2 separate regions of the Homo sapiens genome follow, and region 1 is linked to region 2. Evidence: fine-mapped expression QTL. A gene starts in region 2. The other region holds a variant in brackets. All regions are shown on one strand. Distances are between the middles of the regions. Region 1 holds the start of LOC124903726 (a long non-coding RNA gene). Region 2 holds the start of MON1B (MON1 vesicular trafficking associated B).

The links. PIP is the estimated chance that this variant, and not a neighbour inherited with it, causes the effect.
Region 1: its variant is fine-mapped to the expression of MON1B in thyroid (GTEx, PIP above 0.99).

The regions. Positions count from the first base shown.
Region 1 is chr16:77,210,039-77,226,159 of GRCh38, forward strand. It overlaps SYCE1L (synaptonemal complex central element protein 1 like), which reads left to right. Exons shown (of 11, transcript NM_001129979.3): 7 at 1,175-1,238; 8 at 2,092-2,161; 9 at 2,244-2,331; 10 at 2,536-2,608; 11 at 2,819-3,177. The coding sequence ends at 2,893. LOC124903726 (a long non-coding RNA gene) reads right to left here and starts at 2,093. Exons shown (of 2, transcript XR_007065121.1): 1 at 1,991-2,093; 2 at 1,549-1,893. It also overlaps the pseudogene VN2R10P. RefSeq lists silencers at 2,093-2,452, 2,513-2,842, 2,953-3,042, 3,073-3,122 and enhancers at 2,200-3,173, 10,438-10,547. The variant C/T (reference allele first, on the strand shown) is at 8,801.
Region 2 is chr16:77,183,458-77,199,578 of GRCh38, forward strand. MON1B (MON1 vesicular trafficking associated B) reads left to right here and starts at 7,733. Exons shown (of 6, transcript NM_014940.4): 1 at 7,733-7,801; 2 at 8,019-8,176; 3 at 9,994-10,320; 4 at 10,878-11,697; 5 at 12,078-12,225; 6 at 14,651-16,121. The coding sequence starts at 8,029. The coding sequence ends at 14,851. LOC124903725 reads right to left here and starts at 7,109. Exons shown (of 1, transcript XM_047435021.1): 1 at 6,451-7,109. The coding sequence starts at 7,109. The coding sequence ends at 6,765. It overlaps SYCE1L (synaptonemal complex central element protein 1 like), which reads left to right and starts at 15,951. Exons shown (of 11, transcript NM_001129979.3): 1 at 15,951-16,055. The coding sequence starts at 15,995. RefSeq lists enhancers at 7,451-8,399, 7,525-7,814, 7,835-7,884, 13,603-13,772.

The DNA of each region.
Region 1 (16,121 bases), 27 kb after region 2:
TTCTCTGTCCAGCCACTATTCCTCTACTCATCATTTCTCCAATCAGCTATCATTTCTCCAGCCAGCAACTCACACATCCAGTCAACTGTCTATCCAACCTGTATCCATCCATCTCTTCATCCTCCCGAGTAGCTGAGATTACAGGCATGTGCCACCATGCCCGGCTAATTTTGTGTTTTTAGTAGAGATGGGGTTTCTCCATGTTGGTCAGGCTGGTCTCGAACTCTCGACCTTAGGTGATCCTGCCCACCTTGGCCTCCCAAAGTGCTGGGATTACAGGCGTGAGCTACCACACCCGACATCTTCTGAACTTTTACCTAGCACACTCCTGTTACCAGAGGTCTCTCATCCTGGTGCACCATGATTTTAATTGCATGGGGAAACCTGATGTTAGCTAATGTGTGATACTCAACCACACTACTCACACTGTATGATGAGCATTTATGCTCATTTATGTACCTAATCCTCACAATGATAATTATAGGAGTTAAGGCTAATGTCACCCTCCCATCACTACCACCATTTTACATATTAGGAAACTGAGACCCAGAGAGGTTAAGTAACTTGGCCAGGGTCTCGGTGAAGTAACAGATTAGGGTTCAAGCCAGGATGTTATAGAATCTGTGGTGCCAAATTACCACACGCCTCACAAAGCTTTCTTGGGAAGGCAGAGTTCATTCCATGGGGGACAGGATGGACAGGGTAATGTTCTCAACAGAGGCCCATGAAGGTTCTCATTCAACAGGAGAAACAAGAAAGGTGAATGCTGTGAACAGACATCCCAACTCCCACTCCTGCTGGAGTGAATGATGGGTCATTCAGAGAATATGACTGAGGGTTGTCTTTCCCTTCCCAGGAAGCACATGCTGCAAGAGTGCATGGAACAAATTTTTGCCCATAATTCTCAGGTTTCAGAGTCTCAAACAGAGGAATCTGGGGTAACTCCCAAGCCTGGGGCCTGGCAGGCCACTGTGTAGAAAGTGGGAACAGGGCTTGCATCAGGGAGAGTTTGTTGGAAGAGGTGCTACGGGAACCAAAGCTTAGAGGATAAAACCCATGAAGGGGCTCCCAGCAGAGGGAGCATGGGCAGGATCTGAAGGCCTGTGCATGAGGAGCCCCCAACAGGGTGTCAGGCCTAGCATGTGTTCTCTTATTCCTGGGTGTCGGCCTCCAGGTTGGATGTCAGAGGACAGCTGGAGGATCTGATGGGCCAGCACAAGGACCTCTGGGAATTCCACGTGAGCCATTATCATTGCCTGCAACCAAAGCCACTCCTCCCTGGCTTTAGTGTCGCACTGACTGGCCCAGAGTCCACCCCTGCCCAGGCTCAATGCCGCGGGATAGTCCTTGATTCCTTGCTTCCGCTTGCCCACCTATTCAGTCCCTCAGCTTTTATCTAAAATCAACTTACGCCTCACCATGCCCCACTGCCACACCCAGCATCACCTGCCCAGACGGGTGCAGTACCATTGTGATCCTGCTTTCCCCCTGCTCATCTAGTGTATGTTCACCTTGCAGTGGCAAATGGCAGCCCAGGGAAAGCCATGGTCAGGTCATTCCTTCATTTAGCTAATGTCAGTGGTTGCACCGGTCAGCATTTGAGGCAGGGAGGGAGGGTAGCAGATCAAAGAGTCCACGTCTTTGCTGTCCCAAGCTGGTTGGGGACGGTGGAGGCACCAAGAAAGTTAGTGGCTAGATCGTGGAACTTCAGTGGGAAGGCCTCTAAGCAAGTGACATCTCAACGCAGAGGTGAAGGAAGTGAGGGAAGAAGCCGTGCAGGTATCGGTGCAGAAGGAAGGCCCTGGGGCTGGACGGTGCCTGAAACCGTTGAGGAGCCGCAGATTGGGGAATGGAGGATGAGGAGAGTGGGAAGAGTTCAAGTTTGAGAGGTGCCTGGAGACATGGAGAGCGTTTAGGGGGAGGTGGGTGGGTCTCCAGCCACAGCAGGAACTGCACATTGAGTTAATAAATAGTTGAATGAATGAATGACCTAATGTAGGTGAAGACTTCGCGAGAAGCACAAAAGGGGAGGGGCGGGCCGTGTAGCCAAGAGGACGGCCAAACGGGGAGGCCTCCTCTTTGTCCTCGCAGATGCTGGAGCAGCGACTGGCCCGGGAGATCCGTGCCCTGGAGAGAAGCAAGGAGCAGCTGCTCTCGGAGAGTGAGCCTCCCGCGCCAGGTGGGCGGGGGGAGGGGGATGTGCCCGGGCCTCGGCCCTGCCCCTGACGCCCGCCCACCGACAGGGAGGCTGGTGCGCGCCAAGCTGCGGGAGGTGGAGCGGCGGCTGCACTCGCCGCCTGAGGTCGAGGGCGCCATGGCGGTGAATGACGGGTGAGAGGGGAAGGGAGGAGTGGGCGAGGAGGGCAGGGGCAGGGCGGAGGGGAACCCGCCCAGGTCCCCCGCTCCGCCCCCGACTGCCGCTTCCCCGGCCTGTGCCTCCCTCGGCGTCGTCGGGTCTCCGCGTCTCGGTGGCTTCCTCCTCGTCCCCTGGACTCTCGCTCTCTTCCTCCTGTCTCCTCGGCCCCTTCTCCGCAGGCTGAAGGCGGAGCTGGAGATATTCGGGGAGCAGGTCCGGAGCGCCCCCGAGGTCGGGGCCGGCGAGGGAGAGGTAGGGAGCCCGAGGAAGGGAGGCGGGGCGGGCAGGGACCGAGTCAGGAGAGAGCGGGCGGGGGTCCTGGGAGCGGCCCCCGAGAGTGGGGTCTGTGGGGAGCAGGGCGGCCCCGGGGACAGAGGAAGCCGCGGTGGAGGCCTAGGGCAGACGCGGGCGGACGCGAGGAGCGTAGGAACCTGGTCCGCAGCCTCACCCAGCCCCCGGCAGGCCGGACCTGAGCTCCCCCGCGCTCGCGACGAGGAGGATCCCGAGCCGCCGGTGGCTGCCCCTGACGCCCTCTAGGCCAGCAGGACCCGCCCGTTCCCGACCTTCCCTCGAGACCCGCCAAGAAATAAAGGCGATGATTTCCGACCATGCTCGCGTTCTCCGCGGAGTCTGTGCTACACCGTGGAGCGGGGCGGGGCGTGCTGGGATCTCGAGGCGGGGCCTCTGCCGGACCCCTCCCACCAGTCGAGCCCCGGGCGCCGTACAGAGGCTGGGTAAATGCTCCTGAACTCAGAGAGAGTAAGTGGGTGTCAGTATCCCCCGCCCCACGGCCTCATCTCGAGTTCCCAAACCATCTATGTTGTCAACAGGGGCCGGAGGGCAGGTGTTAACCCATTCCGGTCCTCGGGGCCTGTGCGTCTCCGGTGGTCTCAGGAAACCCAGAGTCTCTGCAAGACCCGCAGACTCGCGCTGGCTCTGGGACATGCCCGCCCATCTGAGCTCCCCTCACAAATTGGGTTCTAGCCAAGGCTGCCTCTCCACCCGTCTCAAACATTCCAAAACACGTGTCCCCTCGGGGCCTTCGCCCTACTGGTCCTTCTCTGGGGTCACATCCCCCAGGCAACCTCAGATCTGTTAAATGTGTCCGCCACTCTGGAGGCCGGCATTTGGGACCCAAATCCAAAGGCACCCAGCAGCAGGCTGCGGCCATTGACTGAGCATGTACTGACTAAGCAGGCATTTGCCGATTGCCTGCTGGGTACCAGGCACTGTTCTAAGCACTGGATTTTAAACAGCGCGGTCAGCGACGGCCTCACCTAGGAAGTGGTATCTGAGCGGAGAAGCGAGGTAGAGAAGCGAGGGGGTGAGCCCTGTGGGTGTCTGGGGAAAGGTGGGCCTGGCAGAAGACATGCCTCATGCCAAGGCGGGAGGTGAGGCTGCACTTCGCTGTGTTTGAGGAGACGTCTGGAGAAGGCCGGCGTGGTAGAGTGGAATGAGGTAGAGTGGGATGGGAGACGACACTGGAGAGTTGCCAAGGACCAGTCAAGTTGGACACTATCTAATGTGTGTAGAAGAGGACCTGGCACACAGTCAGTATTCAGTGAATGCCAGCTCTCACATATTGTTGGGATGATTCACTATTCCCAGTCCCTAGAGAATGGGAACTGAGATGTGTGACTCACTTAGATCAGAGGCTTCTGTCCATTAAGTGATCAGTAAGTGGTTCATATGATTTATTATTATTATTCCCAGGCTACAGATGAGGAACACTAAGGTGTGTATATCTCTCAGAACAGAGATTTTTATAACATAAATGCTCAATAAATGGTATCTATCATTTATTATTCTCACTGCTATTCTTGCTGTTATTCCCAATTTAGCGATGAGGAAAATTGAGATAGTGAATCTGTACAGTAAGCCCTCAATAAACGTTGGGTCTCACGTTTGTTGCCATTATTATCCCAAGTCCACAGATGAGGCCCAGGGAGCTTTAGTCCCCGAGTCACCACTCGCATCCGGGCAGAGCTGACTCCAGGCCCAGGCTGTGGTCCCCTGCCCCACTGACACCACCTACTTGCTAAGGCCAGTCTCCAGGAATCTCTAAGGAACTTCAGTATCCTCTTTGTCATCCTCTCTGTGTCACACAAATGGGGTCAGCCTGGATATTCTGCCGATTTACCACTGGGCACCTAGGATTCGAGTCCTGGTTTCCCTGTTCACCAGCTGGATGACCTCAGGCAAATTGCTTAATGTCTCTAAAACGCAGTGACCAGCTGGGTGCTGTGGCTCACGCCTGTAATCCCAGCACTCTGGGAGGCTGAGGCGGGTGGATCACGAGGTCAGGAGTTCAAGACCAGCCTTGCCAAGATGGTGACACCCCTTGGTTTGGTGGTGGCAGGTGTCTGGAATCCTAGCTACTCAGGAGGCTGTGGCAGAGAATTGCTTGAACCCGGAAGGCGGAGGTTGCAGTGAGCCAAGATGGCGCCACTACACTCCAGCCTGGGCGACAGAGCGAGACTTTGGCTTTTGATTTGCCCTGTGTTCTCCTGACTCAACTGACCTTCCTGGCAGGGCTACTTCTCCTTTCATTGAAATAATTGACAGCTGCCTGGGAAGTCTTCACTCACTTCCTGTAACAGCTTTTCTCAGGGCTTGCATTCAATTACCATAATTCTCAAGCTTCTTGGCTTGTAGTTCAGGTTCAAATGTGAATGAGCCTGGGGGAGCTCAGTGTTGCCAAAAGGCGGAAGGACATTCTTTTTATTATTATTATTATTTTTATTTATTTATTTATTTATTTTTGAGACGGAGTCTCGCTCTGTCGCCCAGGCTGGAGTGCAGTGGCGCCATCTCGGCTCACTGCAAGCTCCGGCTCCCAGGTTCACGCCATTGTCCTGCCTCAGCCTCCAGAGTAGCTGGGACTACAGGTGCCCGCTACCACACCCGGCTAATGTTTTTCTGTATTTTTAGTAGAGACGGGGTTTTACCGTGTTATCCAGGATGGTCTCGATCTCCTGCCCTCGTGATCCGCCCGCCTCGGCCTCCCAGAATGCTGGGATTACAGGCGTGAGCAACCGCACCCGGCCAGGACATTCTTGAAAAAAGTAAGCCAGAAAGAAACCCACTGAAAAACAGAGGAGTCAGAGGAGGGGCCCGAAGAGATGCAAACATAGCACATCCTGAGTAGCAAGCTAGACAAGGCATGGAAGAGAGAGTGGCCAAAGTGACTGCAGTAGAATCTCCCGGAGGATAATAATATTACTACCTAATAGAGCACACTAGTTAGCAGAACAGAACCCAGGGCCAGACTGTGTTTGTTAGAATCCCAGCTCTGCTGCATACTAGCTGTGTAACTTCAGGTTACACAGTTAGGTTACTTAAATTCCCTTTTTTTTTTTTTTTTTGAGATGGAGTTTCATTCTTGTTGCCTAGGCTGGAGTGCAATGGCGAGATCACGGCTCACTGCAACCTCCACCTCCTGAGTTCAAGGGATTCTCCTGCCTCACCCTCCCGAGTCACTGGGATTACAGGCGCCCACCTCCACACCCAGCTAATTTTCGTATTTTTAGTAGTGACGGGGTTTCACCATGTTGGCCAGGCTGGTCTCAAACTCCTGACCTCAAGTGATCCACCCGCCTTGGCCTCCCAAAGTGCTGGGATTACAGGCGTGAGCCACCCTGACTGGCCGTTCATAAAGTTTTGAGGACATGTAGCATGTTACGTTTCAGAGAATCAAAGGCATCCACCATTTCTTTTTTGATCTCTCAATTTTGTGTTCATTTAGATTTCAGACAGCAATCAAAACATCAAGTACAGGTGAATACAATCCCAGGCCACCTTTTCCTGGGAACCTGGATATTGAGCTCTTACTTTTCTCCATTCTAGGATCTTGTTAAGCAGTGATGCTAACCAGTGAGTAGAACAGTGAGAGGTCCGTGCATATTCTATTTGCTGATCTACCAGCTGTTTTAAGGGACTGGTCAGTGGCAGAATTAACATATTTGCCATACCTACAAAATTCACAAGTACCTAGACTTCATTTTCCATTTTCCTACAAAACTCAAACTCTGTTTTTGTGACCTATTACTCACCGTAATCCTACCCAGCATCTTTCTCATTGGAATCTTGAGTAACATTTACCCAAAGATTACATTAGTTCCATTCTTCTTCCTTTCATTATCAAGTCATTATTAGATGGAGATGATTTGAATAGCCTAGGTGCCTGTTTTTTGTCTTGTAGTCCTTCCTTGGTGTTAACTCTGAAATTAATTTATCTCTTTTTTTATTTTTATTTATTTATTTTTTGAGATGGACTCTCACTCTGTCGCCCAGGCTAGAGTGCAGTGGCACAATCTCGGCTCCCTGCAACCTCCACCTCCCGGGTTCAAGCGATTCTCCTGTCTCAGCCACCCAAGTAGCTGGGACTACAGGTGCCCACCAACACGCCCGGCTAATTTTTGTAGTTTTAGTAGACACAGGGTTTCACCATATTGGCCAGGCTGGTCTCAAACTCCTGACTTCAAATGATCCACCCACCTTGGCCTCCCAAAGTGCTGGGATTATAGGCGTGAGTCACCATGCCCTGCTAAAATTAATTGATTTCTTCCAAGTGTGTGCAGTCATGTTTTACTTCTGTGATCAGACCTATTTAAGAGTTATAAAGATTCCTTCCAATTGTATCTTATGAAAGCCAGTAGGCATTTAATGACCTTCTTTTCTGGAGTCATTGTCTTTATATTTTGTGCCTCATTTTTGGAAAGCCTGTTTTACTTTCCGTGTGTCTTCTTATTTCTAAAGTCTTATTAAACCTACATTATCTAAAATGCCCATTACCTATAAATTTCTCTTCCACTCTGAGATTAAATATCTTTCTCAGTGGTTACCTTTATATTTTTAGAACATTTTATTGTTTAAAAATCACAGTCAAAGCTTCAAAAAACATACACCCCAAAATATCCCAATTTCAGTATCCTACTACCCAGAGGAGAGCACATGGCTGTTCTTCCCCTTCTGGTGCCCACAGCACTAGCGAGGACCCTGCCCTGAAGAGACCACTTGCCCACCCTCCTGCCCACCATATGTTAAGTCACCGTTTCTAATACATTTATTTATTTATTTATTTATTTAGTAAGATGGAGTCTCGCTCTGTTGCCTAGGCTGGAGTACAGTGGTGCAGTCTCGGCGCACCGCAAGCCCTGCCTCCTGGGTTCAAGCAATTCTGTAGCAGCGTCCCGAGGAGCTGGGATTACAGGCACCCACCATCCCATCCAGCTAATTTTTGTATTTTTAATAGAGACGGGGTTTCACCATGTTGGCCAGGCTGGTCTCAAACTCCTGACCTCAGGTGATCCACCCACCTCAGCCTCCAAAAGTGCTGGGATTATAGGTGTGAGCCACTGCTCCCGGGCCCTAATGCTTTTATAATTTAGTTTATATTTGAACTATTTGGAATTTATTTTGTGTCTGTACATAATCTGGAGAGAATTTACTGAATAGCACATGTATCCCCCCAACTGCAATGCCATCCTCGCCATATACCAAATAATCATGTCTATTTTGGTCAATTTCTGAACTGTTTATTCTATTCCTTTATCTAGTTACCTATTTATACACAAATACCAAACTTTTTATTATTATACCCTTAAATAATATTATGAAACTCACTTGGTGAGACCTCCTCTATATTTTCCTACTGTTTCAGAATTTTTCAAGGGTAGTTTCTTTCCTATGCATACTCTAGAATCATATTGTCTATTTCCAAAAAAAAAAAAAAAACAAAAAAACAAAAAACCTGACTGGGCGCAGTGGCTCACAGCTGTAATCCCAGCACTTTGGTGGGCAGAGGCAGGCAGACTATGAGGTCAGGAAATCAAGACCATCCTGACTAACATGGTGAAACCCTGTCTCTACTAAAAATACAAAAAATTAGCTGGATGTGGTGGCACAAGCCTGTAGTCCCAGCTACTAGGGAGGCTGAGGCAGGAGAATCACTTGAACCCAGGAGGCGGAGGTTGCAGTGAGCAGAGATCACGCCACTGCACTCTAGCCTTGTGGCAGTGTGAGACTCTGTTTCAAAAAAAATTAAACAGCAGCAACAACAACAAAAAACCCCTATTATTATTTGATATTTGTATTGAATGAAATATATACATTAACATGCAGGAAATTAGTATCATTATATTGAGCCTTCTAAAGGAGAAAAGAGTCTGTTTTATCTGTTTAGTTTTTTTTTTTTTTTTTTTTGAGATAGCGTTTCACTCTTGTTGCCTAGGCTGGAGCGCAATGGTGTGATCTCAGTTGACCACAACCTCCGCCTCCCGGGTTCAAGCAATTCTCCTGCCTCAGCCTCCTGGGTAGCTGGGATTACAGGCATGCATCACCATGCCCAGCTAATTTTGTATTTTTAGAAGAGATAGGGTTTCTCCATGTTAGTCGGGCTGTTCTCCAACTCCCGACCTCAGGTGATCCGCCTGCCTTGGCCTC[C/T]CAAAGTGCGGGGATTACAGGCGTTAGTCACCGCACCTGGCCTAATTTTTATTTTATGTGTTCTTCTCCTCTGTATATCTCTTTGAATTCTATTTTACCTGATAATAATGTTGCTACAGTAATTTTTTTTTTTTGAGACTGAGTCTCACTCTGTTGCCCAGGTTGGAGTGCAGTGGCACTATCTCGGCTCACTGCAACCTCTGCCTCCTGGGTTCAAGCAATTCTCCTGCCTCAGCCTCCCGAATTGCTGGGATTACAGGCACCTGCCACCATGCCCAGCTAATTTTTTGTATTTTTAGTAGAGATGGGGTTTCACCATGTTGGCCAGGCTGGTCTTGAACTCCTGACCTCAGGTGATCCACCCACCTCAGCCTCCCAAAGTGCTGGAATTACAGGCGTGAGCCACCACGCCCGGACAATAAATGTATTTTTAGGAATATTTTTCTTCGTATGTTTCTTTACTTGACTGTCTATTTAGGTATCTAATTTTTCAGGGTTTGTTTAATAAAACTATACTGTCATTGATAATTCATAGCCTAATGAGGAAGGCAACCCAGGACAAAGGGTTCAAAGACACAGGTACATACTAGAGTGTGGGGAGGCATGCAGGCACATCCTAATGCAGGTAATGTTGACTACGTTGTTAAAGGCAAGTAGGAATTAGTCAAGCAAAGAAGAGAGCAAAAGAAACTCCCTGTTGAAGAAGGTCATGGCAAAGCGAGAAGGCATGAGCACTGTGAGTATGATACATAAATCTCTACATCAGAATCTTTTGATCCAGTGTTTAGTTTATGACAAAAGATAAGGCCAGAAACCTATGTACAAACAAGATGATTAAGACCTTTCCTGCCACATCAAGCTGATGGAATTCTACCTCGAAATGTGGAAGGGATACACTAAGAAATATTTAGCTATTAGAACCTGAGGGCCTCTTTGATACCTGTTAAAAGTTGAACAGGTCCCCATTCTTAATAAGGCATCTGGTTCAGTGTAAATTCTTAGAAAATAATTGTCATTTGTGTAAATAATCCAGGAGAAGGCAGAGGTCAGGAAATGTTTTTCTTAGCGGGCCAAATAGTAAATATTTTAGACTTTGCAAGCCAAGAGGTGAAATTGAAAGTATGTAAATACTTGTATAACCATTTAAAATGCAACCATCTAAAAGTATTAAAACATTCATAGATTATAAGCCCTATAAAATTACTAATGGCTAGATTTGACCTGTAGGCTATAGTTTGTGGACTCTTGGCCTAGAGAATGGATATTTAAATTTTTAAGGGAGTATAATGCTTTCATTATGAAAGAAAATGGAAAATAATTCGTTGGCATGTGGAGAAATGAACAATGAGAGAAAATGTTATTTTGGGAAATAAAACCAAGGAGAGAATTGGCATGTTAGTTTGAAATTATTGCTTCTGTAACATGCTAAAAAGCATGACATTTGAGTATAGCACTGAGATGGACAAGGTGCCCTACAAGGCCAAAAATGACTTTTTTGTTTCTGGGAATCAGTAAGGATTTATGAATCTTGAACAAAAAACCATTGCTTTGTTTTTCAGATACTATTCAGTATAAGAAGTGTCCAGATGATCAATATCAGAATAGTCAGAGAATTTACTGTCTTCCAAAGGATGTGAACTTCTTGGCTTTTGAAGGCCCTTTGGGGATGTCTCTGGCCTGCACAGCCCTGCCTCTCTGTCCTTACTGCAGTGGTCCTTGGGGTATTTGTGAAGCAGCAGGAAATCCCCTCGGTTAAAGCCAGTACATGGGCTTTCAGCTGCACCCTGCTGAAAGTCTGGCCTCCGTCACACTGTGCTTCCTCTGCTCTGCCCTATGCATTGGCCACCCCCACACAGCTACGTGGTGACTCCAACAAATAGCATTTGGAGTTGTGTTTACTATGGCTATTTCTATCATTCTGACCAAAACCATCACTGTAGTTCTGGCTCTGAAGGCCAGAATGCCAGGGAGAATAAGATGGTGATTGGTATCAGGATCTCCTAATTTTGCCCTTTTTATATTCTCCCTAATCCAAGTGGAATCTGTCTCCTGATCTGTCAGCTCGGGCTGAGAAACTTTCCTCCCTTCATTGACACAGACACACTCTCTAAGCTTGGATCTGTAGTTCTCACACGCAGTGAGGTTTCAGCACTGTCTTCTACCATGTCCTAGGATACCTGGGCTCCTTGACCCTGGGGAGCTTTACCTTGGCTTTCCTGGCCATGGGTTTGCCTGACACCTTCAATAAGTCAAGTTCTTGATGTTCAGCATGCTGGTGTTCTGCAGTCACCTCCCTCCTTGCCGACCACAGCATCAAGGGGAAGGTCCTGGAAGCCATGGGGTTCTTCTTCATCTTAGCTTTCAGTGCTGAGCTACTTGGCTGCATCTTTGCCCCCATATATTACGTTACTCTTATGAGATATGAATACCTTCCAAGGTCTGAAGATTAAAATAGGTTCTGGAAGCAGTAAGAATTCCAGAGTTTTATTTCAAAAAAGGGGGAAAAAAAAAGAGGCGACATCCTGAATTTAAAAATTCACTATTATCACAATCAGATGCAAGTTAATAATTGAATCAAACTCACTACCTCCGAAGATAAAGTCAGTCTCATGTCTTTAAAGGAATTAAGAGCAATACCACTCTCAGTTATCCTGTTTCATAGTGTGAATGTTATGGACATTTCCCATCCATGCCTTTTTCTTCAATGTATGTAATCTTTCATGCGGCATTTCTCTTCCTTTTTATGTAATAACAACCTACATAACCCAGTGTCTTCAGCCAACAATCTTGCCTAATTTTCCAGTTTGGAGATTGTTTGCCTTCACGGGCATTCCTTTCCCTTCCCCTGTAAGCTCTATTGCCTAAGATTCCAGCCATCTGGGTTGTGAGTGGAGTCATCCAGAAGGAAGCAGTGTTAGAATAATGGTGGCTTTTTCTCAGTGGCTCTACCTCCTCCTAGACAAATCTATTCTGCTTGCAGCCTCCATCGAGTGATCCCAGGCGCTGGGCACTGTTAACTCTGACTCCCTGATAATTTCTCTCTCTCTCTCTTTTTTTTTTTTTTTTTTTGAGATGGAGTCTCCCAGTCACTCAGGCTAGATTGCAGTGGCATGATCTTGGCTCACTGCAACCTCTGCCTCCCAGGTTCTAGTGATTCTCCTGCCTCAGCCTCCCAAGGAGCTGGGATTACAGATGTCTGCCACCAGGCCCAGCTAATTTTTGTATTTTCTTTTTTAGTAGAGACAGGGTTTCACCATGTTCTCCAGGCTGGTCTCAAACTCCTGACCTCAAGTGGTCTGCCCACCTCGGCCTCCCAATGATAATCTCTTTTTAACTGCTACTCACATGTTTGGTTCTCAGATCCTCCAGCACCTGCAATTCCTTGCTGTATTAGTCCAGGTTCTCCATAGGAAAAGAACCAAAAAGATACACACAGACACACACATATATGGAGAATTATTATGGGAATTGGCTCATGTGACTATGGTGGCCGAGAGGTCCCACGATATACCATTTGCAAGCTGGAGAACCAGGAAAGTCAGGGTGTAATTCAGTCCAAGTTGGAAGACCTGAGAAAGAGAGGAGCCAGTGGTATAACTCCCACTCTGAGACTGAAGGAGGCACTGGCTTAAGTCCCTGGAGTCTGAAGGCCTGAGAACCAGGAGCTCTGATGTCTGAGGGCAAGAAAAGATGGATGTCCCAGCTCAAAAAGACAGTCAATTTACCTTTCTTCTGGCTTTTTGTCTTATTTAGATGGGCCCTCAATAGATGAGGTGATGCTCCGCAACACCGGTGTGGGTGAGTCTTCTTCCCTTAGTGGACTGATTCAAATGCTACTCTCTTCCAGAAACAGCCTCACAGACACAACCAGAAGTAATATTTTTCTATCTCTCTGGCTGTCTCCTATCCCAGTCAAGTTGACACATTAAAATTAACAATCACACCTGCAATTATATTCCCTCTGCTTTAAATAAATTCTATCTTTTTATCTGATTAGACCCTGACTGACAATCTTGCTACCAGGAGAAGTGCCAGGAAACACATCTTCCTATGGGATTCTGGTTGGGGTTGGCCTGCTTGTGCATGAACACAATCATGATCTTATTGCAGGTGGAAAATGGAATACTGATTCTAGCAGATAGGGTCAGCGCCTACCTGTACTCACTTGTCTTACACCTCATTGCACGCCAGGCCGGCTTCCATCTGCCAGGACATAAATTCCTTTCCATGACATTTTTCCATGACATGGATGCTGAAGTATGCCTGGCCTATTTGTCTGGTGGGCTAGAAGTGTTGCAGAATGAATTTCTGCCTCCCTAAGCCTCAGAACAGTCTTCATCTATTGACCGATAGGATTGGGTGTATATGCCAGTTAACAATGTATTGCCTCTCAGCTCCAAATTCACCTTTACCACCTGCCTTGTGAAAATGGATCAGGCCCTTGAAACAGTTTCCTTTGCCAGCTGACACGATGTTAAGCTTTGCTCAGTAGAGGGCGCCAGGGAGACGTTTCTGCTTTGGTTCTGGTCTTCCGGCTAGGTAGGTTTCTGCAGGGTGGACGACTTCTCCAGCGCAGGTTCCTGTAGCGCATGGCAGCCAGCAGCGTCCCAAGACACCATCTTTGGTAGTTTTGTAGCAGTGACTCTAGTGAGACACCTCTCCATGAACAACGTTCCCCAACACCTCAGAAGATGGATTTCTGGCAAGGTTTAGAGGGCAGATTTCCAGAAAGTTCTACAAAGGCAGCACTACAGCAACTTCTTTGCCCTTCAGTGAGTCACAGCCATGACCTGTCCAACTAGGACCTGACCTCACCCTGTGGGTAGAGGGTCTCCCTTGGACGCTCCAGCTCAGCCCTGCAGGCAGTAGCTGCTGCGTAGGTCGGCTCTTTCTGTATGCTTCAGAGTTTTCTTTGCTTTTTCCTAGTGAACCCCTCACTGCCCCAATATCCCATTTTAGTTAATAATGATGTATTTTAAACTTTATCTGTTCAAATTATTGCATAGTTTTTCTCCCTTGATAGGACTCTTACTGTGCATAAATTCTCCAGCTCCTTTGGCGTTTGGCTGGAGTAAGTTTGAGGCATGCTTTTATTTATTTATTTATTTATTTATTTATTTATTTATTTATTGAGATGGAGTCTCGCTCTGTCACCCAGGCCGGAGTGCACTTGTGTGATCTCAGCTCACTGCAACCTCCGCCTCCCGAGTTCAAGTGATTCCCCTGCCTCAGCCTCCTGAGTAGCCGGGATTACAGGTGTGTGCCACCATGCCCGGCTAATTTTTGTATTTTTAGTAGAGACAGGGGTCTCACCATGTTGGCCAGGCTGGTCTCGAGCTCCTGACCTCAAGTGATCCGCCCACCTTGGCCTGCCAAAGTGCTGGGATTACAGGCGTGAGTCATCGTGCTCAGCCAGGCGTGCTTTTTTAATACTGGCTCCAGGGTATCCCCAGTGGCTTGTTAAAAAAATACATCATGGGCTGCTTTTCCTTTCTTGCTGTGGGAATGTAAAAGGACCTGATGAGGATGAAAGACACGACTTGTTGACAGCCCTGGGAGTCTAGAAGGAGGTGGAAGTCAGAAATGTTGCAGTTGTTCAGAACGAATTCCTAGTACTGTAACTAGGCCAGTGCTGGCATGGAAATAGAGATTACCTACACACCCCAAAGGGGGCTTAGGCCTGCATGCACCTGGTGATTGAATGTGAGATCGAGAGGGCTTTCCAGCAATAGAAATATACACCTTCCTATTGCTCCAAGATGCCAAGCAGAAAGTCAACATACATTTGAATAGGTTCTATCAAAAGAACAATTCCTTCTCTGATGTGGATCATGAAGTAGCAATTATTCTATCTCTATTCCCATGCAAGCTAAGCGTATGCATAGAGATGACCATTTCTGGGTTATGTCTATGTCATAAACTTGTTTAATGCAGTTGCTGCCTTGGCATCCGTTGTTAGGCCTGACATAAGTTGTTTGAAGTCCAGTTGTACCCTGTCACCTTTGGTCTAGTTAAAACTTCCTCTCCCCATGTGGCTGTTTGCAATATAGCCCACTTGTTCCTCATCCCACTGAACCCAAACCCAACATATCCCACAGCTGCTGACTGTGATAAAACCCAGTGGCCAACACCAGAGTCGTGTAGGTAAGTTCCCTTTCTCACACGTATTTTCCTTAAACTAGCAAATTCACAACCCCCTGTGGAAAGCCTAAGTGAGAACACTCCTGGAGCCCCTAGACCTTGATAAAGGCGTGCTCCTGCTGGTCATCTCTCATGTCATGCATTTCGTTTTCCCATTTTCCTTCTGTCTCTCCTGACTGGCACACCTGAACCTTAACTAGGACATAAGGAGAATAGGAAACCAAAATGCAAGGTCCAGGGGCTCCAGGAGTGTTATCACTTACAACACGCTCTCCTAGAGAGTGGCTATCTTGGCAGAAATAAACTGGACACAGATCAGACAAGAGCCACAAAGCGTGTCTGCTGGATTTCCTTTGAGAGAGACAGCTGGCTATGGATCAGACTCAGGCATTAGGCTGTCAATCAGGATAAAGAAGCATCATGTGAAAGACACACTGTAAACACCTGTGAACATCTCCCCTGGAGCCCTAGCAGGGCCAAGCTTTATCGCCACTCTCCAGAGAGTCCTGAAGAGCAAATTAGAGGAAAATCTCAACAGTACAGTTATTCATCTGAAGAAAGGCTAGAGAACAAAAGTAATAAGCATCAGAAACACACTTGTTGGTATGGTTTGGCTTTGTGTCCCCACCCAAATCTCATCTCAAATTATAATCCCCATGTGTCAGGATAGGAACTTGGTGGAGGGAGGTCGTTGGATCATGGGGGCAGTTTCCCCCTTGCTGTTAGTGTGACAGTGAGGGAGTTCTCACGAGATCTGATGGTTTACAAGGTGCAGTTTCCCCTTCTCTCTTTCTCTCTCCTGCTGCTGCCATGTAAGAAGTGCCTTGCTTCCCCCTTCGTCTCCCACCATGATTGTAAGTTTCCTGAGGCACTCCCAGCCATGCAGAAAGGTGAGTCAATTAAACCTCTTCATTATAAATTATTCAGTCTCAGGTATTTATAGCAGTGTGAAAATGGACTAATACACTTGTGTTAGTAACTGCAAGCTTTGGAACCCCTGTGTATCTGCTGTCACCCACTGATTCTCAAACTGCACTACATGCTACAATCAATAGCGGTGCTACAAAGTGCCCGGAATCCCTTTCAGAAGGTATAATTCACTCAGTTTGGGATAATGCCCGAGTATATTTATTTTAAAAATTTTCAGTTGGTTATGTGCAGTTGGAGTTGCAAACCATTT
Region 2 (16,121 bases):
TAGCAATTCTAGCTAGTATGTGGTCAATTCTTACTCTAGATACAATGTGCCTTTTTAGGACTGATTATTATGGTAAGCATTTTTTCATGGACTTATTGGCCTTTTGTGTCTTATTTGATCAAGTTTCTGTTTAAATCTTTTTTATTGAATTGTTTGCTTTCATATTATTGAGTTTAATATGTCCTTTTAAAATTTTTGTATTATGGGTACAAGTTATTTGATGCGCACAGGTATTTTTTCAGTCTATTGCTTGCATTTTCATTTGCTAACACTGTCTTGAGCAGATTTTCATATTTTTCAAGTTCAGTTTCTCATTGTTTTGGTTGATGATTCATGATTTTGTGACAAAACGAATAAATCATTATATATACACCAAGATTGTAGAATTTTTCTTCTATGTTTTCCACAAGAAATACCATTTTAGCTTTTATGTTAAGCTGTATAATATACTGTAAATTAAATTTTTGTATGGTGTTATATAAGGGTTGCAGTTCATTTTCTCCATGTGAATGTCCACTGTTCCAATTCTATTTGTTGGTAAGATTAGCATCTCTTCAATTAATTAGATTGGTATCTTTGTTGAACCATACAGGTGTGGAGAAATCAGGACTGTGTGATTTGATAAATTGATCTATATATTTATATTTACATCAATACGTGATCTTTGTTACTTTAGCTTTACAGTAAATATTAAAATAATGTAGTTTAAGTCTATCTTTGTTCCTCAGAAACGTCTTGGCTATTCTAAAATACTGGCATTTTCATATCAAAATAATTTTGTAATTTGTCTTTACAAACCATTCTAGGTTTTATATTAGGATTATGTAAAATTCAGTAGATAATTTTAGGGAGAATTTATATTTTGATAATGAGAAGTTTCCAATTGTTGGACATAGTGAATATCTCAATTTACTAAATCTTCTAAGTTCCTCCAGAAAAAAAAAATGATTTTACAGTGGATAATTAAGGCATATGTATTATTATAATTATATAAGCATATATATCATTATAATTATTCCTAAGTATTTTAAGTTTTTATGCTATTGCATATGGTATTTATCTTTTAAGATTCCATATTCCTTTCCTTCATTAATTTTCTGTGTGTGTGTGTGTATGTATCTACCTGTATTATTGCTGTGTGTATATCCATATGTAATTGATTTTGGTATTCTTTAACCTTGTTACAGTCACATGTATATAACTTAAAATGTCTATATACAATGCCATATTGTTTCAGAATAAAAGAGATATTTTCATTACTAATATTTAGGGGTTTTTATTTATTTCTCTTTTTTTTCTATTTATACTAGCTTTAAATATGCAATGTAATCTTGAGCAAAAGTGACAATAACAGACATCCTTGACTTTCCCCTAATCTTAGGGAGAAAGTAGTCGGTCTTTCCCCATAAAGGCTAAAGTTAACTGCAGGTTTTTCTTCCATGTTCTCATCATCTTAAGTACATTTTCCTTTATTCCTAGTTGATAAGAATGTCTTTAATGAATAGTAATCAAATTTTGTGATATTCTTCTTCACTTTTGATATGTCAATATATTGAATTCAATAGTCTACAGATTTTTGAATCCATATTCTTGAAGAAATTTGACCTGCTTTTTCATTTTTATAATGTTTGCTATAGTTTTATTATTATGGTAATTATCAAATTATAAAGTTGAAAAGTTTTTCCCTTTTTTTGCTTTTCTGAACAAAATTATACAACATTTGTAATACTTGTTACTTAAATATTTGAATCCACCATTGATGTCATCTAGGCCTGGAATTTTTATGGGAAAACTTTTAATTATAAATCTAATTTACTTAGTGATATAGAGCCCTCAGGTTTGTTCCATTCCTTGTGAATAAATATTTGTATTGGCGTCTTTCAGTAATTTTTCCTCTATATTCTCAAAGTTTTTGCCATTAAAGTGCTCATAGTAGTTTCTTACTACCCATGTATGTCTATGCCATCTCTAATCATGTTACCTTCTTTCAGCCCTACTATTGGTAATTTGTCTCCTGTTTTATCATTTAAGCAAAAGTTTCAGTAATTTTATGGATCTTTTCGAAAAATATATATATTGTTGCATTGATTTTCTCTTTTGGTTGTATGTTTTCTGTCTCACCAAATTTCACTCTTATCTTTATTATTCCCTTACTTCTTAGTTACTTCAGGTTTAATTTCCTTCTTATTTTCCAGCTTCTTAAAGTTCACATGTAGACTATTGATTATAGGCATTTCTTCCTATGTACATAAGCATGTAGTTATACACTTTCTTATAAGCACTGCTTTGTATCTTCCAAATTATTTGTTGTGTCTTTATTTTCATTCAGTTCAAAATATTTTCTAATATTCCATCGAGATTTATTATTTGATCCACGTGTCAATATGAAGTGTGTTGTCTTAATTTTCAATAGAGATTTCACAGATATTTTTGTTAATAATTTCTATTTTAATTCTATTGTAATCGAAGAACACCTTCTTTATAATTTTACTTATTAAAAACGTATTAAAGCTTGTTTTATCTTCCAGCATATGCTGTACCTTGTGAGTGTCCCATGTACACTTTAAAAGGATGTATACTCTACTATAATTGGGAGGAGTATTTTTACAAATGTCAATTAAGTTGATTTGGCTGATAGTTGTTCACATTAGCTATACCCTTTCTTGTTTTCTACCTTAGTGTTCTGTCAATTACTGAGCATGGAGTGCTGAAATCTCCAACTATAATTAGGGATTTGTCTATTTCTCCTTTATTTTCTGTCAATTTGACATTTGTGTATTTTGAAGTTTTGCATTCATATATGTATATTTAGGATTGTTGTGTCTTCTGGATGAAAACATATTCTTGAACTTTGTATCATCATGATATGTCCTGTTTTAATATTTCTTATTTTGAAGTATTTTTTTCTGATAGTAACATAGACCCTCAGATGTTATAATACCTGCATTATCTCATAGTTTAAAATGTTTTGACATTTTACTTTTAAATGATCTGCTTTTTTTTTGTATATTTACAGGAGTCCCTTTTTTTGTTGGTGTTTATTTATTTATTTATTTATTTATTTATTTATTTATTTTTGAGATGGAGTTTCGCTCTTTTTGCCCAGGCTGGAGTACAATGGCATGATCTTGGCTCACTGCAGCCTCCACCTCCCAAGTTCAACTGATTCTCCTGCCTCAGACTCCCAGGTAGCTGGGATTACAGGCACATGCCATCACACCCAGCTAATTTTATATTTTTAGTAGAGACAGGGTTTCACCATGTTGGCCAGGCTGGTCTCGAACTCCTGACCTCAAGTGATCCACCCACCTCAACTTCCCAAAGTGCTGGGATTAGAGGCATGAGCCACCACGCCTGGCCCATTTATATTTTTACAGACCACATAATTACATTGAGATCTTGTAGTGAGCCTATATTTAGGCCCTGATGTTATATACAGTTGGACAATCTCTGTTTTAATTCTACTATTTATTTGTATTTAATGCAATTTTTAACATAGTTGAATTAGTGTCTTGCATCTTGCTGTTTGTTCTCTATTTGTCCAATCTGTTCTTTATTGTTTTGTTCCTCTTTTTCATCTTTCTTTTGGATGGCATACACTTAGTATTCCACTTTATCTCAACTCTTGGCCTATTATTTCTTTGGCATTAAATTTCTTTGGCATTTCTGTATTTTTTTCCCCATGTCAACAAAATGCTTCTTTCATTCCTCACAATATATCTTCAAATAATAATTCTTCATGTAAAATGTGAGAGCCTTAAAGTAATGTGCTATCATGTATAACTTCAGTCATTTGTGTTATTGCTGCCACACATTTTATTTCTACAAATATTATAAACCCCACAATACATCGGTTTTGCATTTAGATAAGTCAATTATATTCTTAAATGAGAAAATATACTTTACTATTTATCCACAATAGTAAAAGTCTTTTAGATTTTGGAAGCAACACATACCACATTTCAGTGTGTGACTTTGACTCATTTACAGAATTACCTGTAGATTTCAAGTGAGAAGAACAAAAGAAAGTGAGTTCAGACTGCAGGTTAAGCTAATCCACCACTTGGGGCTTATGATCCAGCAGACCCATAGATTGTCAAACTGTCCATGGCAAATAAGGATGCTCTACAGAGCATCTGGCAAGCAACAATAGGACAAAAAAAAAACACTACACAGATGTGTAAGATTTTGAAATAAATCTATCCTCTCTTCTGTAGTTAATGATTCTTCTTTTGAACAGGTTTGGGACCAGGCCTTGGTAAAGAATGAGCACCTAACTATGGGATGTCAGGTGATTGCACAGCCTGAGATTTCGATCATGGGCTGGGTGTTGGATACTCACCTAGCTATAAGGTTGGGTGCTTTATTTATTTATTTTATTAATATTATTATTATTATTTTTGAGATGGAGTTTCACTCTTTTGCCCAGGCCGGAGTGCAGTGGTGCAATCTTGGCTCTCTGCAACCTCTGCCTTCTGGTTTCAAGCGATTTTCCTGCCTCAGACTCCCAAGTAGCTGGAATTACAGGCACCTGCCATCACGCCCTGCTAATTTTTGTATTTTTAGTTTCACCATGTTGGCCAGGCTGGTCTCGAACTCCTGATCTTGTGATCTGCCCGCCTCGGCCTCCCAAAGTGCTGGAATTACAGGCATGAGCCACTGTACCCAGCCTGACATTGGACGCTTTATTATCAAACAGAAATGGTACGTAAGAGATCAAGCTCAGGCTTAACATGAGGGTCTAACTGAGTTCCTGTCCTTAAGTCCTAGGCAGTATTTTGTGTTTTCCTTTACGTCCTTTCTTAGACTCATCTGTAGCTTGGGATTACCTGGGACTTACACAGTGTCCATAAAGTCAGGAAGTATAAACATATATAATGTCACAAAGACATCTTTGATCTGTTAAAAAAACAAACAGAAAAAAACTCTGTGTCTGTGTGTGTGTCTACAATTTGTAAACACTCTGCAGTTCAAGCCATGAGCCATAACTTAAAATCTACTGGAGAGGTTTGTTGAGATATTTTTGGTCTTTGCTTTTCTGATTAAAAAAAAAAAAAGGCAGACACACCAGAGATGGCTCTATGTTCCTTCACTTGTTCCCATCTCTCATCTTTGATTGTAGAAATTGTTTAGAGTGGCAAATCATCAAACACGGAATGCTAATAAAGCTCCATAAACTTACGTCTGCAGTTTTGAAATCCAAAAAGCTCCAGAAAAATAATTTTTAAAAGCTCACTTGGAGGTAAAACCTGAACTAAACTAACATAAGACGGTTTAGTGTTTCTCTTACTGGGAGTAATAAAAAGTTTCACTCAGAAAAAATGAGTTTAGTTATCAGGTGTTTCCCAGTCCCTTGCTGGGCTCTATATAATACATGGCACATGCACCTAATTTCATTTCTAAAATCAGGAAAATGTGTGAATTTAAAACACATCTGGCACTAAGGGTTTCAGATAAGAGACTGTGTGACAATTGTTCTTAGTTCTGCCATTTTCCCTGGAAAACAATCTTTAAAGTTCACAGAGCACATCAGCAAGAATTTTTAAAAGGAGCCTAATTGTGATATGGTTTTGTTGAAATACAAGGCAGGTGTAAAAGGAAAATAAATCTCAGGACTCCAAAATTACTAAGCCAAAGGTAAAAGTCAAGCTGGGAACTGCATCAGGCAAACCTGCCTCCCAGTTTATCCCTAAATAAGATATTTACAAAGATAAAGCTACATACTTCCCTCATAATTTGCCCTCTAGGGATTCCTTGTGGGCTGCAAGATCTTTACCCTAAAACGGTTCTGTTGAATTTTACCCTGACAACGTAAATTGATAGTTTATCTTCACAGGTGCGAGACAAAGGAGCGAACCCCAAGTCATCCCTCTGCTCACCTGAAACAAATGCATATCTGATTGCTTCCTCTGAGGTAAAAATGCAGATTGACAAAGCTAGATGAAGGCGTAACTATTCCTCTACTCCCCTGATAAGGTTTGGATCTATGTTCCCACCGAAATCTGATGTCGAATGGTAATCCCCATTATTGAAGGTGGGGTCTGGTGGGAGTTGATCGGATCTTGGGGGTGAATCCTTCATGAATGGTTTAGCATCATCCTCTTGGTGACAGTGACTGAGGGAGTTATTGCGAGATCTGGTTGTTTAAAGTGTGTAGCCCTGGGCTGGGCATGATGGCTCACTCCTGTAATCCCAGCAATTTGGGAAGCTGAGGCGGGTGAATCACCTGAGGTCGGGAGTTCAAGACCAGCCTGGCCAACATGGCGAAACCCCATGTCTACTAAAAATACAAAAATTAGCCGGACGTGGTGGCGGGCACCTGTAATCCCAGCTACTCCAGAGGCTGAGGCAGGAGAATTGCTTGAACCCGGGAGACGGAGGCTGCAATGAGTCAATAACATTTTGCCATTGCACTCCAGCCTGGGTAACACAGCGAGATTAATAAATAAGTTTGCTTATGAGATGTTATTTTATTGTACTTTTTTACATGTTTATTATATATTATATACTTCTAAATGTATTAGGTAAATATATTTTGTATGCACATAAATTTATCCATTGTTTCTGTTATATAAATTTAATATTTATTACTTATCGATTACCTATTGTATATAAAGCACATGATGCTACACTGGTATTTGGAATTCATTACCCTAACTATACTGTAATTAAAATAATTATCCTAACTAGTACCAAAGGCTTCCCCTTAGCAATCACTCGAAGTGTGCCAGCACCTCCACTCACTTCACGTCAAGCGATTCCCATCATTGTTTCACTGATGGAGAAACCAAGGCCCAGGGCACTTGGGGCAAGGCGTTCAGGGGGCTTTCGGTCCGGAAGCAGCGTCGGGGCGGGAATTCGAACCCTGGGTTCCCACACTGGCCCGTGGCAGGGCCCCCAAGCCTTTTCCCAAACTGATCACAGAAAGTGACGACCCGTTCGCCCGGCGGACCGGGGGCGTCGGGCAGGTCCTGGTCCAAGTGAGTGCCCGCCCCTGCCCTGGGCTGGCAGAGTTCTTCCCCCAGCTGCAGGTAGACGTGGGAACCCGGCAGGGTACGGAGCTGCTGGCGCGGCACGCTGATTAGAAGCGGCGACTGCCCGTCAAGCATTCGCGCCTCTCCCCTCCCTTGACTTTCTTGGCAGGGTTAAGGGATAAGAGAAAGTGGAGTTGCCTCAGTTCTGGGAGAGCCCGTTTGTGGGTCCGGCACAGGTATCCATCGGGACTGACGCTGCAAAAGTCCTCTTGTGAAACAAGGAATAGGCTCGAGTCTTCGATTGGGTCGAGGGAGACGTCAATCAATGGATGGGCGTGTGCAAACGCAACACAACGCACAGTATTGGTTAGGATTTGGCGGGGGGAGTAGACAGCGGGGAAATGAGGCGGCTCATCTCGATTGGCCCAGAAAGAAGACGGTCGCGCCCTATGTACTCCGGGATTGGCTAGAGCGAGCCGCGTCCCCCCTCACGCCAACCACTGGTAAGCGAAGTGGGCCTCGCTCTCCCGGGTTAGCAGCCGTAGCCAGATCCGTTGAAAGGAGTGCAGAGAGGTCTCATTGCGCTCCCGAACAGACCTGACGTAGATCCGAAGTGGCCCGCGCCATCTCAACTATGAGGGGACACCCGTAGGCGGCGGGAGAGGGACGCCGCGAGGAGCCAATAAAGCTCCGCAACCGGAAGTGTCTTCTGGGAGGGGTCGTACCCGGAAGTGTGGCACCTCCCGGGCCGCACCCGGAAGTGTGATGCCACCGCCGCTACGGGGAAGTAATGGTATCCGGCCAATTGAGATTCGGAGTTAAAACAGGTGTTTGTATATCTCTATTTCCTGAGGCCCAGTAGAGTCTCCTCTTTTCGGAAAGTGTTGGAGGGGGGACGTATTTGGGCATGATTTTGGATGTCTCGTCCTATTGAAATCCGTGGGGAAATGAGCAGTAGGAGTGTGTCCAAGGGGGCCTGACTCTATAAAGGCTTTTCAGAAGTTTCTTTCACCGCCCGTCACCCTCGATTCCCCTCCCACTCAGGGATGTGCAGATGGAGGTCGGAGGAGACACTGCTGCCCCGGCCCCCGGGGGCGCGGAGGACTTGGAGGACACGCAGTTCCCCAGTGAGGAAGCTAGAGAAGGTGGAGGGGTTCACGCGGTCCCGCCGGATCCCGAAGACGAGGGCCTGGAGGAAACAGGTATGACTCCACTTAGTGGGGTCTTAAAAGGAATCCTTAGGGGTTGTCATTGTTGGACGGGGGAAGGGTCAGTGGGTGACCAGTAGGGAGTCTTGGGACTTAAGAGAAGTGGCTTAAACCATCGCCGGGTCAGGAGGAGGTCACTGTGGACACATGGTGTAGTTTACATCATTGAGGAAGTCATTGGCTGTCAACGGATGTTCACTGGGGGTTTGGTGTGAGTTTAGGTCATTGAGGAATCAAAAAGGGGGCTGTTAGGACCAAAGAGGGTCACTGAGGATTTAGAGTGTTTAGATCAAAGAATGCGCTGAAGAAAGTCAATAGACTCAACAGAGGAGGACTGTTGAGAAGTTAGTGTTTTTGAGGAGTAGGGTGTTATTTATTAAATAATAGAAGTGGGAAGGGGAATCAGTGGAGTTCGATGGGCACTCAGAGTATTTACATCATTGAAGTCACTTGTAGACTGTTGGGGAAGTCTTTAAGGGACCAAATGTTAGTGGATGTGTAAAGTTGTTCATTTGAGATTTAATGGAAGTCACTGAGAAGTCTGTGCCATTGATCACTTTGGAATTAGTGGATGTAAATGGAGTCATTGGGAAGGATCAGTGGACCTCACTGAGAATAAATGTGGATGGGGAGGTTGAGGACTTGGGAATTAATAGCAGGTAAGAGCAGTTATTAGGAGGGAGTAAAGATATTTGGGGACATGGGAGTGTCAGTGAATGTCAGTGACAGAATATGCAATTATTGGGATTTTATGGGAAAATTATTGAGACATAGTTGCACATGGATAATAATGGTTGTCATTGGGGGATGAATGGAAATCAATGGGAATAAATGGATGTGTCAGTAGGGGCTGTTGAAGTTGTGGGTTTTAGTGAATGTTAATGATGGTCATGGGTAGGGGCAATGGAAGTCATTAAAGTCTTGTGTGTTAGTGGATATTATGATGGTTACTGTAGGGAGGGGAGTGGATACCAATGAGATTGAAGGTGGTCAGGGGAGTGACTGAAGGTCTCTGAAGTGCTGGGTGTTAGTGGAGGTTAATGATGGTCATTGTTGGGGGTAGGGGGGAGTAGACATGGAGTAGAATAACTTGTGGATCAGGGCAGTCATGGAGGGTCATTGAAAAACCAGGTGTTAATGATTGTTAATGTGGGGTCATTGGGGTGTTTGTGAACCACAGTGGGAGTGAATAGTGGATTAGGGGAGTCCTAAATATCTGGGTGTTAGTGGATATTAACGACAGTCATTGGGAGAAATAGTGGACATTACCAAGAATATAAATGGGCAACCAGGAGAGTTAGTAGGGGTCATCAGGTATCAGTGGGCATCACTGATAGGGTAGTAGCGGGGGTTGGGGCATTCAAACAGTTAAGATATTAATAGATGTTAATGGTGGCCATTGGGTGAGCAGATATCAGGAGAAAAAATAGCGGTCAGAGGAGTTAATGGGGGATCATTGAAGATGAATAATCGTCATCCAGAGTCAATGGGGTGCTTTGAAGACTTTGGAATAACAGTGATTGAAAGGGAAGTAATTGGTCTGTAGGAACATAGCAAGTCCAGTGGAATAACAATGAGAATATGTTGGTTTATTAGGGTTTTAGGAAGTTCATTGGAACCTAAATGTTAGTGGAGATCATTGCGGGGTCCTAGGGCAGTCATCGGGTCATTGAGGGGCATAGGAGACACTTGGAGTTCTGCGTCAGCATGCAGGGGTCATGGAGGGGCTAGTAGATATTTGGTGGGTCCTTGGGGATGTGGGATTAGTTAGGAGTTCACATGCAGATGACCCACCAGGGGCTCCCTTTCAGGATCCAAGGACAAGGACCAGCCACCCAGCCCATCACCACCGCCCCAGTCAGAGGCCCTGTCAAGCACCTCTCGGCTCTGGAGTCCTGCAGCCCCTGAGAATAGTCCCACATGTAGCCCTGAGAGTAGCTCTGGAGGCCAGGGCGGGGACCCCAGTGATGAGGAGTGGCGCAGCCAGCGGAAGCATGTGTTTGTGCTGAGTGAGGCTGGCAAGCCCATCTACTCGCGGTATGGTAGTGTGGAGGCGCTGTCGGCTACCATGGGTGTAATGACCGCCCTGGTGTCCTTTGTGCAGAGTGCGGGAGATGCCATCCGTGCCATCTACGCTGGTGAGCAAACAGGTGGGAGGCAGAATGGGGGACAGTGACTGGGAATATGGCTGGCACGGGTAGGTCTGTCTGCCTCAGGCACTATCCAGCCAGCCAGGGTTGGGTCCATGTGTGTGGATGGTCAGCCAGAGCTCTGTCAGTGGCGGGAGGTGGGGGGGTTCATCTCTGTCTGGCCTGCTGGTTTCTTAGTGATTGACTTGCTGGGATCTCAGTGACTAGCTGGATACTTCTGTGTCACCTGAGAGGATAACTGTGGGGGCTGTGTGGTTGAGCTGTGTCTTTCTGGCTCTGTGTCAGCCCTTGTACCATCTCTACCCGCCTGCCCGTGGTCTTTGCTGTGTATCTAACCTACTTGTTCCTTTGTCCATCCCATCATGTCTCTGCAAATGTCCAGATTCCTCCAGCTTGTCCTTACCCCAGTCCAGGTGCCCACAGAGTGAGCATGTGGACTCGGGCCTGGTGTGTGTATGGTAGGAGAGGGCAGAAGAGCCCCACTGTCTCCCTCTGGTCATTCCTGATCCAGCTGTACCCCCCCTTCTTACCCCTTCCTTCCCTAGAGGACCACAAGCTGGTGTTCCTACAACAGGGCCCACTGTTGCTCGTGGCCATGTCACGGACTTCTCAGTCAGCAGCCCAGCTGCGGGGGGAGCTGCTAGCTGTGCACGCACAGATCGTGAGCACACTTACACGTGCAAGTGTCGCCCGCATCTTCGCACACAAGCAGAACTATGACCTCCGCCGCCTGCTGGCTGGTTCAGAGCGCACACTGGACCGACTTCTGGACAGTATGGAGCAGGACCCAGGAGCCCTGCTCCTGGGTGCCGTGCGCTGTGTGCCCCTTGCCCGCCCGCTGCGAGACGCACTAGGTGCGCTCCTCCGACGTTGCACAGCGCCTGGCCTGGCGCTGTCAGTGCTGGCAGTAGGCGGTCGACTTATAACAGCAGCCCAGGAGCGAAATGTGCTGGCCGAGTGCCGGCTGGACCCAGCTGACCTGCAGTTGCTGCTCGACTGGGTGGGTGCACCAGCCTTTGCGGCGGGTGAGGCTTGGGCACCTGTGTGCCTGCCCCGCTTCAACCCTGATGGTTTTTTCTACGCCTACGTGGCCCGCCTGGATGCTATGCCTGTCTGCCTGCTGCTGCTTGGCACCCAACGTGAAGCCTTCCATGCCATGGCCGCCTGCCGGCGCCTGGTTGAAGATGGGATGCATGCCCTTGGTGCCATGCGTGCCCTTGGGGAGGCTGCCAGCTTCTCTAATGCCTCATCAGCCAGTGCTCCTGCCTACAGCGTGCAGGCTGTCGGGGCGCCGGGCCTCCGGCACTTCCTGTATAAGCCGCTGGACATCCCTGACCACCACCGCCAACTGCCCCAGTTTACCAGGTAGGCCCTGACCCTAAGGCAACTGGCTGGGTGGGAAGGCCTGTCAAACCAGGAAGTTCAGCATCTCAGGGATGTGACTCAGGAGAGATAACCAGCCATGCTTAAGAAAGAGGGAAGAGAACAAGTCTCTGTCTGATGATGGAGCATCAGCCACAGACCTAAAGGAATCCCCCTCTTCTGGTGGACAGCAGGGCCCTAGTACTCAGGGAATCTCCTAGTTTGATGAGGGAAGGTCAGCCTCCAACCCCTGAGAATCCTCAAGTCTCATGGGAGAGGCTCAGCTCCCTAACTTCATTGAAATCTCTAGACTGAGGGAGGAAATGGGCCAGCCAAGAAGGCCCTGGACTAACCTTGTCCTCCACCTCCCTCCATCATGGCAGCCCTGAGCTAGAGGCCCCCTACAGCAGAGAGGAGGAGCGGCAGCGGCTGTCGGACCTGTACCACCGCCTGCATGCTCGTCTCCACAGCACCTCCCGACCCCTGCGCCTCATTTACCACGTGGCTGAGAAGGAGACACTACTGGCCTGGGTAAGTTGGGCAGGGCTCTGAGTGAATTAATTCCCCACTTCAAGCCTCCTTTCCCTATATTGTATCCCCTCCAGCCACAGTGCCTCCACCAAACACAGCAGGCCTCTGGCTGGGCTGTGCCTTGCCTGCAACACTGTCCCTGCCTTTACACACACATCTTTGAAGCCCCTGACAACTAATGACCGTGTCTCTAATCCGACATTAGCCTCACCCTCCTGTGTGCTTCTCCCAGATTAGCAACCAGGACAGTGTCTTTGACTTTCCAGAGGCCCCATTAACTACCACTGCTGTGCCTGCCGATTCCCCAGTAGCCCAATCCATGTGTTTGGAGGCACCCCATTCATCACCAGCTCATTGTGACTCCATGAGTCCCCAGCACTCCTCAGACTACAGGCGTGGTCCCTTGCTGTGCCCTCCACCTGGGGTATCCTTCCCTTTGGTCTCCTCTGGGCTCCAGCCCTCACTTCCTATGGGTTTGCTAAAGGTCAGCTACTAAGGGAGGCCAGTGAAGGAGGCCTCATCAGAAATGGCACCTGCCATGTAATGCATATTTATTAATTTATTGCGTGACTGCTGTGGATCAGGTATTGTCCTAGGCTAAGAATTTTGTTTTTAAATTTTTTTAACTTTCATTTTCAAATAACTTTAGACTTAGAAGCTGCAAAAACAATATAAAGAGTTTTTATATTTATATTTATAAAGAGTTATAAAGGGCGTGGTGAAAACCACGCCTGGTCAGATGGTGGTTTTCCTAACTCCATCATTCTTTCTACATTTATTGGCTGGGATTTTACTATAAAGAGTAACATGGGGCCGGACGTGATGGCTCACGCCTGTAATCCCAGCACTTTGGGAGGCTGAGGCAGGCTGATCACTTGAGGTCAGGAGTTCGAGACCAGCCTGGCAAACATGGCAAAACCCCGTCTCTACTAAAAATACAAAAATTAGCTGGGCGTGGTGGTGCGCACCTGTAGTCCCAGCTATTCATAAGGCTGAGGCAGGAGAATCGCTTGAACCTGGGAGGTGGAGGTTGCCGTGAGCCAAGATCGCGCCACTGCACTCCAGCCTGGGCGACAGAGTAAGACTCCATTTCAAAAACAAAAAGGAATAACTTTTCCTTCTCCTATTTATTGAATTTTTAATTTTCTATCAATATTGTCTCATGGATTTTTCTTTAATTCAGTGAGCTAAAATCCTTCTCTAGCATTTATTTTGGTGTTCAGATTGCCTCTGATTTAGCCGGTGGGTACCCTGATTTAGCCAGGCTGATCCCTGTGTCTCTGACACGTCCCCTTCACTATGTGAGCACATCTTACTTGACTTTCTCTATTCCAGTCCTCAACTCAGCCATTTTTCCATGGAGCCCTTATACCTTTTAGTAGAGATTGGAATTTTAAAACCAAGATATGGGCCAGACACGGTGCCTCACGCCTATAATCCCAGCACTTTGGGAGGCTGAGTCGGGGTGGGAGTTGGGGGGAGTGGGCGGCGAGTCACAAGGTCAGGAGTTCGAGACCAGCCTGGCCAACAGGGTGGAACCCCATCTCTACTAAAAATACAAAAAATTAGCTGGATGTGGTGGCATGCGCTTGTATCCCAGCTACTCGGGAGGCTGAGGCAGGAGAATCGCTTGAACCTGGCAGGCGGAGGTTGCAGTGAGCCGAGACCGTGCCACTGCACTCCAGCCTGGGTAACAGAGTAAGACTCTACGTCAAAAACAAAAAAACAAAAACAAACAAAATATATGTTAGGAGCAGAATTTTAAACCAAGTGATCAGGGTGGCCTCCCTGAGCAGATGGCATCTGAGTGGAGTAGGGAGGTATTGAGCTACGTGGATATTAGGAGGAAGAGTACACCTGGCAGAGGGAAAGGACTGATATGCTATGAGGTGGAACCAAGCCTGGCTATGTTTGAGGAATAGCAAGGAAAGGGTAGAGTGGCCGGAGCAGAGGGAGTGAAGGGGAGCGCTCTGGGAGGTGGCACAGGAAAGGCGCTAGTGACCTTGTGGGGTCAGGCCTCTCCATGTGGTATGAGGCATAAATTGAGTTCCTCTTTATATTATTCCCTGGCTGTAGATGATGAAAACATAGTTGTAGGAGCTTAGAGCAGGACCTTGTACACAATAGGTTACTGACAGAATATTAAACATTGTTACTGTTTTCCCCAGTTCCCAATGAGCAAACAGGTCTAGAGAGTACCCACACACACAACCAGCATCATCCAGTTGAAGTCACTAGGTCCAGCTGAAATTGCACAATATCAGCTTACCTACCTTAGCCCAGTATCTAGGCAGCACCTGGTAGGAGGTGCTGCCAGGTACATGTTCCAGGTTGCAGGAGGCAGACATGCAGCTGCACTGGGGTAGGCAGGATTGTCCATAGCCAGCTCTGGCCCATCTGACTCTGTCTCCTCCGAAACCCCCAGGTGACCTCCAAATTCGAGCTCTATACCTGCCTCAGCCCTCTGGTGACCAAGGCAGGTGCAATCTTGGTAGTGACCAAACTCCTGCGCTGGGTGAAGAAAGAGGAGGACCGGCTCTTCATTCGTTACCCACCCAAGTACTCCACACCACCAGCCACCTCTACGGACCAAGCTGCCCATAATGGCTTGTTCACTGGACTCTGATAGTTGGAGCTCCCAGACCAGGCAGTGCTGGGAGCAACCACCTTTGTTTTTTACCTTCTGTCTACCCTGGAAATGTGTGTGGGGGTGTGTCTGTGGCCAGTCATTGTCTCCCTAAGCAATGGGGCAAGGTCTGAGGGCCCACCGATGAGAGAGATGGTGGCAGCCGCCAGGCGAGCAGGCTGCTTTCCCTGCCCAGTCATGCACCTCCCCCTCTGGGGAAATCCTTAGGCCTCCCTCTCCCTTCCCTCTGTCTCATCTCCTCCACTTGGATGATGCTCTAGCCTCTGTCAGGGACTGTCCCCTCCAAACTTGCTTCCGTGGTCTGCCTCCTAGTTGAATCTCAGCCCTGAGTGTCCAGATCTGGCCAAGGTGTCTAGGGTGGCCCACGGGGGTGCTGGAATTGGCACTTCAGGGCCAGGCTATGCTTGGGACTGGCCTGAGGGTATTTTAAAGAAAAAAACTACATAAAAGGCCTAAAAGTAAGACCCACAAGGATATTCCTTTGCCCTTCTTGTACTTTTTTCATCTTTACCCTGCCAGAAATGACCCGCCCTCAATGCTGGCTGCTGCTAACATTAATGAGAAGGTGGCCTTCAGTGTCCACCTGTGGAACCCAGGACACAGCACCTGACTGCACACAGTGGCTGAAATCCAGCATTTTTACATAGGAGATGCACTTAGCCTCTAAGCCTCGTTTTACTCATCTGTGAAACAGAGATAAGTAACCCTCTCTCATGAACTCTTTGATGAGGATTTGTAAACGAAAACAGACTCGAACTATTGTGTACCACCACATAGCACATGCACGTCTGTCCCAGACTTTGACAACCTGCACAAGACAAGCAGCCTAAAGCAGGAGAGACCTCCCTAGGGTTTTGTGTGTGTGCACACTACCCTCACTCCCCAACTGGCCATTACCCTAGTTCTGCCCTTGTTTGTGGAGTTACAGCCTCAAGGTTGTAGCATGTGTGCTGGCAATCAGGGCCGCAGTGTGTTCTGCGCCTGCCCAGAGCTGACTCCTGATTTAACCGCTGGCGTAACCGCGGGTTGCACGCATGCGTGCTGAAAAGCCTTTCACCCTCACGTGGTTTCTTTTTTAACCAGTCATCAAGCGAGGCTCGCGCGCAGGCCCCGCGTTGGAAAATGGCGGGGAAGCTGAAACCTCTGAATGTGGAGGCGCCAGAAGCTACTGAGGAGGCTGAAGGTAGTGAGGGCAAGTGGGCTGCACTCCTTTCTCTCCAACCAGGGCAGAAAGGAGGGAGGATTCGTC